Homo sapiens: one gene and its partner. The protein of the gene in region 2 purifies or fractionates together with the protein of the main gene of each other region. This does not show direct contact. Each region holds a gene or a part of one and is shown on either strand. Other genes may lie near its edges.

The links. Proteins that work in one complex are often made in the same cells at the same time.
Region 1: the proteins of USP22 (region 2) and SGF29 purify together in Homo sapiens (affinity purification with mass spectrometry; 6 studies listed by BioGRID and IntAct, with this or other methods). This does not show direct contact.

Annotation. Positions count from the first base shown.
Region 1 is NC_000016.10:28,556,821-28,560,568, forward strand, and holds part of SGF29 (SAGA-associated factor 29), read left to right. Parts: intron 1-3,748. UniProt on the Homo sapiens protein: Chromatin reader component of some histone acetyltransferase (HAT) SAGA-type complexes like the TFTC-HAT, ATAC or STAGA complexes.
Region 2 is NC_000017.11:21,015,383-21,019,130, forward strand, and holds part of USP22 (ubiquitin carboxyl-terminal hydrolase 22), read right to left. Parts: coding exon 3,702-3,748; intron 2,730-3,701; coding exon 2,560-2,729; intron 518-2,559; coding exon 370-517; intron 1-369. UniProt on the Homo sapiens protein: Deubiquitinase that plays a role in several cellular processes including transcriptional regulation, cell cycle progression or innate immunity.

The sequences.
Region 1 (3,748 bases), on a different chromosome or scaffold from region 2:
TTGTTTTTGTAGAGACAGGGCCTCCGTGTGTTGCCCAGGATGGTCCTGAACTCCTGACTTCAAGTGATCCTCCCATTTCGGCCTCCCAAAATGCTGGGATTACGGTCATGAGCCACTGCACCCAGTTTGCAGATTCTCATTGCTAGTGACTGGGTTGAGAGTGTGGGATGTGAGTGTGGGGTATTAGGTTCCTCTTTCCCTTTGACCCAGAACAAAGCTCTTACTGTTTTAAGCCCTGTGGGATTAATCTTAGAGTGGCTTAAGTGTAGGATATTTGGATTTGTTTATTTGAGGCCTTTTATGCTATTATAGTAAAAGGGCCAGCAATTTTAGGCTGGGTATTAGTGGTTAACATATGCTTCTACCCTGCAGCCTTTGTCCCTCAGAATTGGCTATCTCTTCAGACCGTGCTTAATGAAAGTTCTTATTAGTCAAGCTACTCAGTTGCAGATAACAAAAAGCTACTCTGACTAGCCTAAGCTGAAAGGGGTGTTTGTTGACTCTGTGATATTGTAAAATATATATCTGGTTTGTATCCCAGTTTGGAGCTTCCTGGAGGGTGGCGTGCCCAGGGTGGGTATGGAAGCTCTTCGCTCCTTCCCACATGCTTTGCCCTGTGCACCTCTTCCTTCATCTGTATCCATTGTGACATCCTTTATAATAAGCCAGTAAACCTAAGTGTTTCCCTGAGTGCTGAGAGCTGCTCCTGCAAATTAATGGAACCCAAGGAGGGAGTCATGGAAACCCTGATTTATAGTCAGTTGGTCAGAAGCACAAATAAAGCAACTGGGGGCTTGTGACTGGCATTGAGAATTGGGGGGACATGCTCGTGGGACTGAGCCCTCAACCTGTGGGGTTTGACACTCTGTCTGGGTGGATAGTGTTGGAAATAAACTGAATTAGAGGACATCCAGCGTGTATCCACTGCAGACTCAATGGATTGATTGGTGTTGGGGAGAAATCTCCACACATTTGGCCACGGAAATCTTATGTGTTGATTATCCTATATTGTGACAGCAGAGGAGAAAGTTTTGTTTTTTCCTCACAGACTGTAGCTGAAGAGTCCTGGAGTAAATCAGTTTCAGATGGGACTCTATCCAGAAGCCTAAATTATGTCACCAGTATTTTCTGTTTTTCTTTCTCTGTTTTTTTTTTTTTTTTTTTTTTTTTTCAGAGACGGGGTCTTGCTGTGTTTCCCAGGCTGGTCTTGAACTCCAGGCCTCAAGAGATCCTCCTGCCTCAGCCTCCTGAAAGCTGGGACTACAGGAGTCCACCACCACACCTGGGTACTTTTTTTTTTTTTTGAAACGGAGTCTCGCTGTGTCGCCAGGCTGGAGTGCAGTGGTGCAGTCTCGACTCACTGCGACCTCCACCTCCCGGGTTCAAGTGATTCTCCTGCCTCAGCCTCCCAAGTAGCTGGGACTACAGGCATGCACCACCATGCCCAGCTAATTTTTTTTTTTTTTTGTATTTTTAGTAGAGATGGGGTTTCACCATGTTGGCCAGGCTGGTCTTGACCTCTTGACCTCATGATCCACCCGCCTTGGCCTTCCAAAGTGCTGGGATTACAGGTGTGAGCCACCACGCCTGGCTGCACACCTGGGTACTTTTTATTTTTGGTAGAGATAGAGCCTCGCTATGTTGACAAGTCTGGTCTCAAACTCCTGGGCTCAAGCAATCCTCTGTACTTGGCCTCCCAAGGTGTTGGGATTACAGGCATGAGCCACTGCGACCCGCCTGTTTATTGGTTTTGTTAAATGCCTTGTCATGAGGCATTAAAAAGCCCATGATGGAAAGAAGATAGCCCCAGAGAAGGGATTCCAAATTCTTCACAAATTCTTCAACAGATGAGTGGATTAAAAACGACATCTATCCATAGAATGGAATGTTATTTAACCATAAAAAGGAATGAAGTTACTGATACATGCTGTGACATTGATGACCTTTGGAAACATGCTAAGTGAAAGAAGCAAGTCACATAAGGTCACAGTACAATTCTATTTATATGAAATGTCTAGAATAGGCAAATCTACAAATATGAATTAGAATAATGGCTGCCAGTGACTGAGAGGAGAAGGGGGTGGGGAATGACTGCTAATGAGTATAAGGTTTTAAGGAGAGTTGGTGAAAATGTTCTAAAATTAGATAGTGGTGATATTTGCACAACCTTGTGACTAACATAACACTGAATTGCACACTTTAAAAAAGTGAATTGGGGTGGGTGCGGTGGCTCACATTTTTAATCCCAGCACATTTTGGGAGGCTGAAGCAGGAAGATTGCTTGAGCCCAGTAGTTTGAGACCAGCCTGAGCAATATGATGAGACCTCATCTCAACAGAAAATTATAAAATTAGCTGGGCGTGGTGGTGCACACCTGTAGTCCCAGCCACTTGGGAGGCTGGGGCAGGAGGATTGACTGAGCCAAAGAAGTCAAGGCTGCAGTGAGCTGTAATTACACCACTTCACTCCAGCCTGGGCAATGAGAGTGAGACCCTGTCTCAAATAAGTAGATAGAGAGATAGAGAATTGTATGGCATGCGAATTATCTTCATTAAGCTGTTTTTGTTGTTGTTGTTGTTTTGAGACGGAATCTCACTCTGTCACCCAGACTGGAGTGCAGTGGTGCGATTTTGGCTCACTTTAACCTCCGCCTCCCGGATTCAAGCGATTCTTGTGCCTCAGCTTCTCAAGTAGCTGGGATTACAGGTGTGTGCCACCACACCCAGCTAATCTTTGTACTTTTTTAGTAGAGACAGTGTTGGCCAGGCTGGTCTCGAATTCCTGGCCTCAAGTGATCTGCCCACCTTGGCCTCCAAAAGTGCTGGGATTACAGGTGTGAGCCACCGCACCCGGCCCATTAAGCTGTTATTTTAAAAAGTCTGCCTAAACCTCTGAACTAGACAAACATGGGGCATATTCCAAGCAACTTAGCCAAGTTTAAAAGATCAGTACAGATTTCAGCTGATGCTTGCCTCAGGGAAGCTAGATTTGGAGTTTGAGTTCAGCTGTGATTAACTGCATGTTAACAGAAACAAAACACCAAACTCTCAAGAACATAACAGAATCCAGAGTCTACAACACATCATCTACAATGTCCAGGATATAATCCAAAATTCTTAGACACAAGAAATGGCCTGGGCATGGTGTCTTATGCCTGTAAACCCAGCACAGCACTTTGGGAGGCTGAGGCAGGCAGATCACTTGAGGACAGGAGTTTGAGACCAGCCTGGCCAACATAGCAGAACCCCTTCTCTACTAAAAGTACAAAAAAATTAGCTAGGCGTGGTGGTACACAGGAGGCTCAGGAGGCTAAGGCACAAGAATTGTTTGAACCCAGGAAGTGGAGGTTGAGCTGAGATCGTGCCACCACTCCAGCCTGGGCAACAGAGCAAGACTCTGACTCAAAAAAAAAAACCACGAAAATTTTAAAATATATTTTTACAAAACAGGAAAATATGATCTGTGTTCACAAAAAAAGGCAATGAATGGGCCCGGCACAGTGGCTCACGCCTGTAATCCCAGCACTTTGGGAGGCTGAGGTGGGTGGATCACGAGGTCAGGAGTTCGAGACCAGCCTGACCAACATGGTGAAACCCCATCTCTACTAAAAATACTAAAATTAGCTGGACGTGGTGGCGCACACCTGTAATCCCAGCTACTCAGGAAGCTGAGGCAGGAGAATTGCTTCAACCTGGGAGGAAGAGGTTGCAGTGAGCCGAGGTTACACCATTGCACTCCAGCCTGGGCA
Region 2 (3,748 bases):
TTTGGGGGATGTCCAGAAGCCTCAGGCCTGATAACCCACAGGGTCCCAGAAATGCCAGGGCAGGCAGGGGCCTCAAAGCACAGGCCCAAGAGGGCTCCAAGAGTTTGCTGTTCACTGTGATCGGTCACTGAGGACCTGTCATACTGCTGGAACTACTTCCTCGCCTCTTAAAAATAAACTAGGAGGAGCCTCTCTGAGGTCATTAGTTATGGTGACTTCAGAAACAAATGACGACAAGGGCTATGATGACAAAACAATGGAATGTGTCACCTGTGCCCCTTTTTGCACGAGTGCATACACTCGCTTTGCTTCCTTCCCCTTCAAGGAAAACATCCTGCCCTGGTGGAGGGTGCAGAGCCCAGGGCCCACCTTTGCAGTGTCGGTGGAGCACGTCCAGGGCCGCGATGAGGAACTCGTGGGCGTCCTGCTGCTCGTAGCCTGCTAGGTGCCTCGCGTGGGTCCACACCAGGTGCAGCAACTTATACGGGATGTGAGGGGACCGGTGTCCAGAGTAAAACTGCCAGAGGGCGGGGAAGGAAACCTTGTCAGGAATAAATGTAGACTCTGAACACAGAGTACACACAATCAAAACCTTTATCAGATGCCTACCATTGGCTGTGGCTCATTTGACACAAATGTTTGGATTTTACTTTTCTACTTTTTGCAAAGTCTATTTTTATCTGGGCTCACTGGACTTTTCGAGTCCTCATATGAATTTTTTCCTTTCTACCATCTAGTTTTCCACATATAAGCCTAAAAAATGAATTATGACTTGCTACTATGAGATCACATGCAAATAAAAGTGACTCGATTTGCCCAATACTAGTTTCCTCAAAGCACTAGCCAAACCACTCAGGCCCATGGACACCAGCACCTCCGCAAAGGGAAGCACATCACTGTGATTATGCAGAATTCACCAGCATCAGCCACAGGATTCTCTGCCTCTGAGGCTAATGGCAATTAGCTGAGGGCTTGCCAGCCAGTCCTCTCCAACAGCTCAACTCCAGCCGCAGACCCAGCAGCACACCTTCCATCCCACGGCTTCCTCCCCAGGTCAGAACCCACAGAGGGGTCTTGCCTGTGCAAATACAGAATTCAGGGCAGTTTTATTTCTCATCAAAAAACCCAAAACCACAGACCACCCAAATGTGTCTGAACTGGGAAACAGACAACTAAACCATAACCCATCTACATAATGGAACCCAACTCAGACATCGAAAGCACACATCATGGATGCACGCAAGACACGGGTGAATCCACCCAGTATTACATTAAGTAGGGACAGCCAGATTCAGAAAGGCTACTTCCTGCATGCATCCATCCGTATGATGCGCTGGTAAAGGACACTCAAGGGACCGAAGACAGATCGGCAGCTACCAGGGTCTGGGGACTGGGGGTTGACTTCGGAGGGGCACGAGGGAGTTCGGAGAGGTAACAGTTCTTCATCTTGAGTAGCAGCAGTTACACAACTATGCATTCGTCGAAACTCATCTATCTATAGGCTAGAAGGTGGGTGTGACTGTAATTTACACCTTAACAAGCCGGAGTCTAAAAACAATCTAACACAAGTGAGCTTATCACTAAAGTCAGTGATACAACCACCCACCAACTTCCCAGCTGCACCCTCCTTTCTCCTATTTGGGCCGTGTCCCCAGCAGTTATGGCACATTGCAGGTACTTTGAGGAAATCGGTTAGGCTCGACCAGAGGCTGGCAATCTGTTTTTGAAAGGCTTGGACAGTAAATAATTTCAGCTTTGCAGGTTGGATAGCCTCTGTCCAACTGCTCAACTCTGTGGCTGTCCCACAAAAGCGACCAGTGACCAGACAGACATGAGTGAGCTGGCGTGGCTGCATCTCTCGCAGAGGTTACGAATGGGAACAGGCCAGGGCTGTTGGCTGGCTCCTGTGCAAGGCACCTGAAGAACAGGCACCAGCCTGCTTATTAGTTGAGGTAACTGAGCTGCTTCAGCTCTGAGAAGCATGTCTAGGTCACGGAGCCGGTGAGGGCTGAGGCGGCAGCCGTGAACGCCTTGCTCTGAACGCTGCCATGCTCTGATGCCGGGGACAGAAGTGGACAGGAACGCCACACGTGCAGCCCACAGGAACAGCCAACGTGCAGCGCGTAGCTCATGAGGACAGAGGCTCTGATGGGGCATGCTTAGAGAGACCTGGCGGTGGAGGAGACTCGCATACCAGGAGGACACAGGAGGGTGACACATGCGTGCCTTTCTGAGCCAGGAAGGTAGACCATGGAGGAAGAGGAAGGGGGAGAATCACCCGTCTTTAGAGACAAATGTCACCCACCAGGGAAGTCTCTGCCACAAGCCTCTCAAAGGGCTTCTCCTTGTTCTGAGTCAGCAGTGCGTCCCCAAAAATCACGCCAGGTCTTCCCTTTTTGGAAAACTGTGTTTTCCATAATAGACATGTATATTAAACATTAACTTACTACAAAAGGTTCTAAATGTATCTTCCTTTATCATGGTCCACCTTAAATTTTTTTTTTGAAGGTGAAAACAAAGTAACAGAAATGTTCCCCTGCAGAAGTCAATGGCGCTCACCTCCTGAAACAGTGAGGACATCTCACAGACCAGACAGGAGCTGGGGCTCTGCATCTCACAGCGGTGCCTGTCAGACAGGAAGAAGTCCCGCAGAAGTGGCGTGTGGGTCAGGGCCTGCACGATGCAGTTCATGAAGCATGTGTTCCCAAGGTTGATCAGCCCACGCAGACCTGGACACAAATCACCAGAGAGCAGGAGTTACCTGTGTGCTGAACCACAGGTGTCGCTGGATCCCAGCGGCTTCCTCTACCTCTACATACTCATTTTCTTTTATTCATTCATTCAAGCCAGAACACGATGAGATATCGCATTCTGCTAGTTTTTATGCCACTTTTACATGAACGGTATTGAAGAATGTCCACCACCATGGACCCCTCCCACTTCAGCCATTGTATGCTTTGACAGAATTACACAAATATAGTTTCTACGACAACAGGCCAGGTCAGAGTGAAGCCTAATGAACAAACAAAACAGGTTTTTAAAAATGTTCTAGGGCCAGGGCAGGGGCTCATACTTGTAACCCAGCACTCTGGGAAGCCAAGGCATGAGGATCACTGGAGCCCAGGAGTTCGAGACCAGCCTGGGCAACATGGTGAGATGTCTCTACGCAAAACACAAAAATTATCCAAACATGGTGGTGTGCACCTGCAATCCCAGCTACTTGGGAGGCTGAGGTGGAAGGATCGCTTGGGCCCAGGAGACAGAGGGTGCAGTGAACTGTGCTCCAGCCTGGGCAACAGAGCAAGACTCTGTCTCAAAAAAGAAAAAGAAAAAGTTTTAAAGGGTATTCCCTCAATTTGTAGAAAATTCAGCGAACACTTACACTCACACACATCATTTCTCTCCCTGAAGATTACTGTGCCCAGCCTCACCCTGGCCAAAATCAACTTGAGTCCCTTTACCCACACAGACGCTGAAGGCTGTGAGGGCAGGGCTGTTGCTACGCATCACTCTGCGCCCCAAGCCCACTGCAGGTCCCTGCAGAGAACAGGTGCTCAAGAGCTGGTTGCTGAGCACATTGATGAGTGACAGTTATGCAGGGCTTCAACAGAATCATGTGGACTTAAGAAACCCACAATTCTGTATTTACTTTTAAACCCTGGAAAGAAGCCTAGCTGAGAGTGACGACACGCTCCACCCACCTATGGTGCAGTTCGAGGTGATCTTTCTCCTTTTCGGGTTGTGCTTC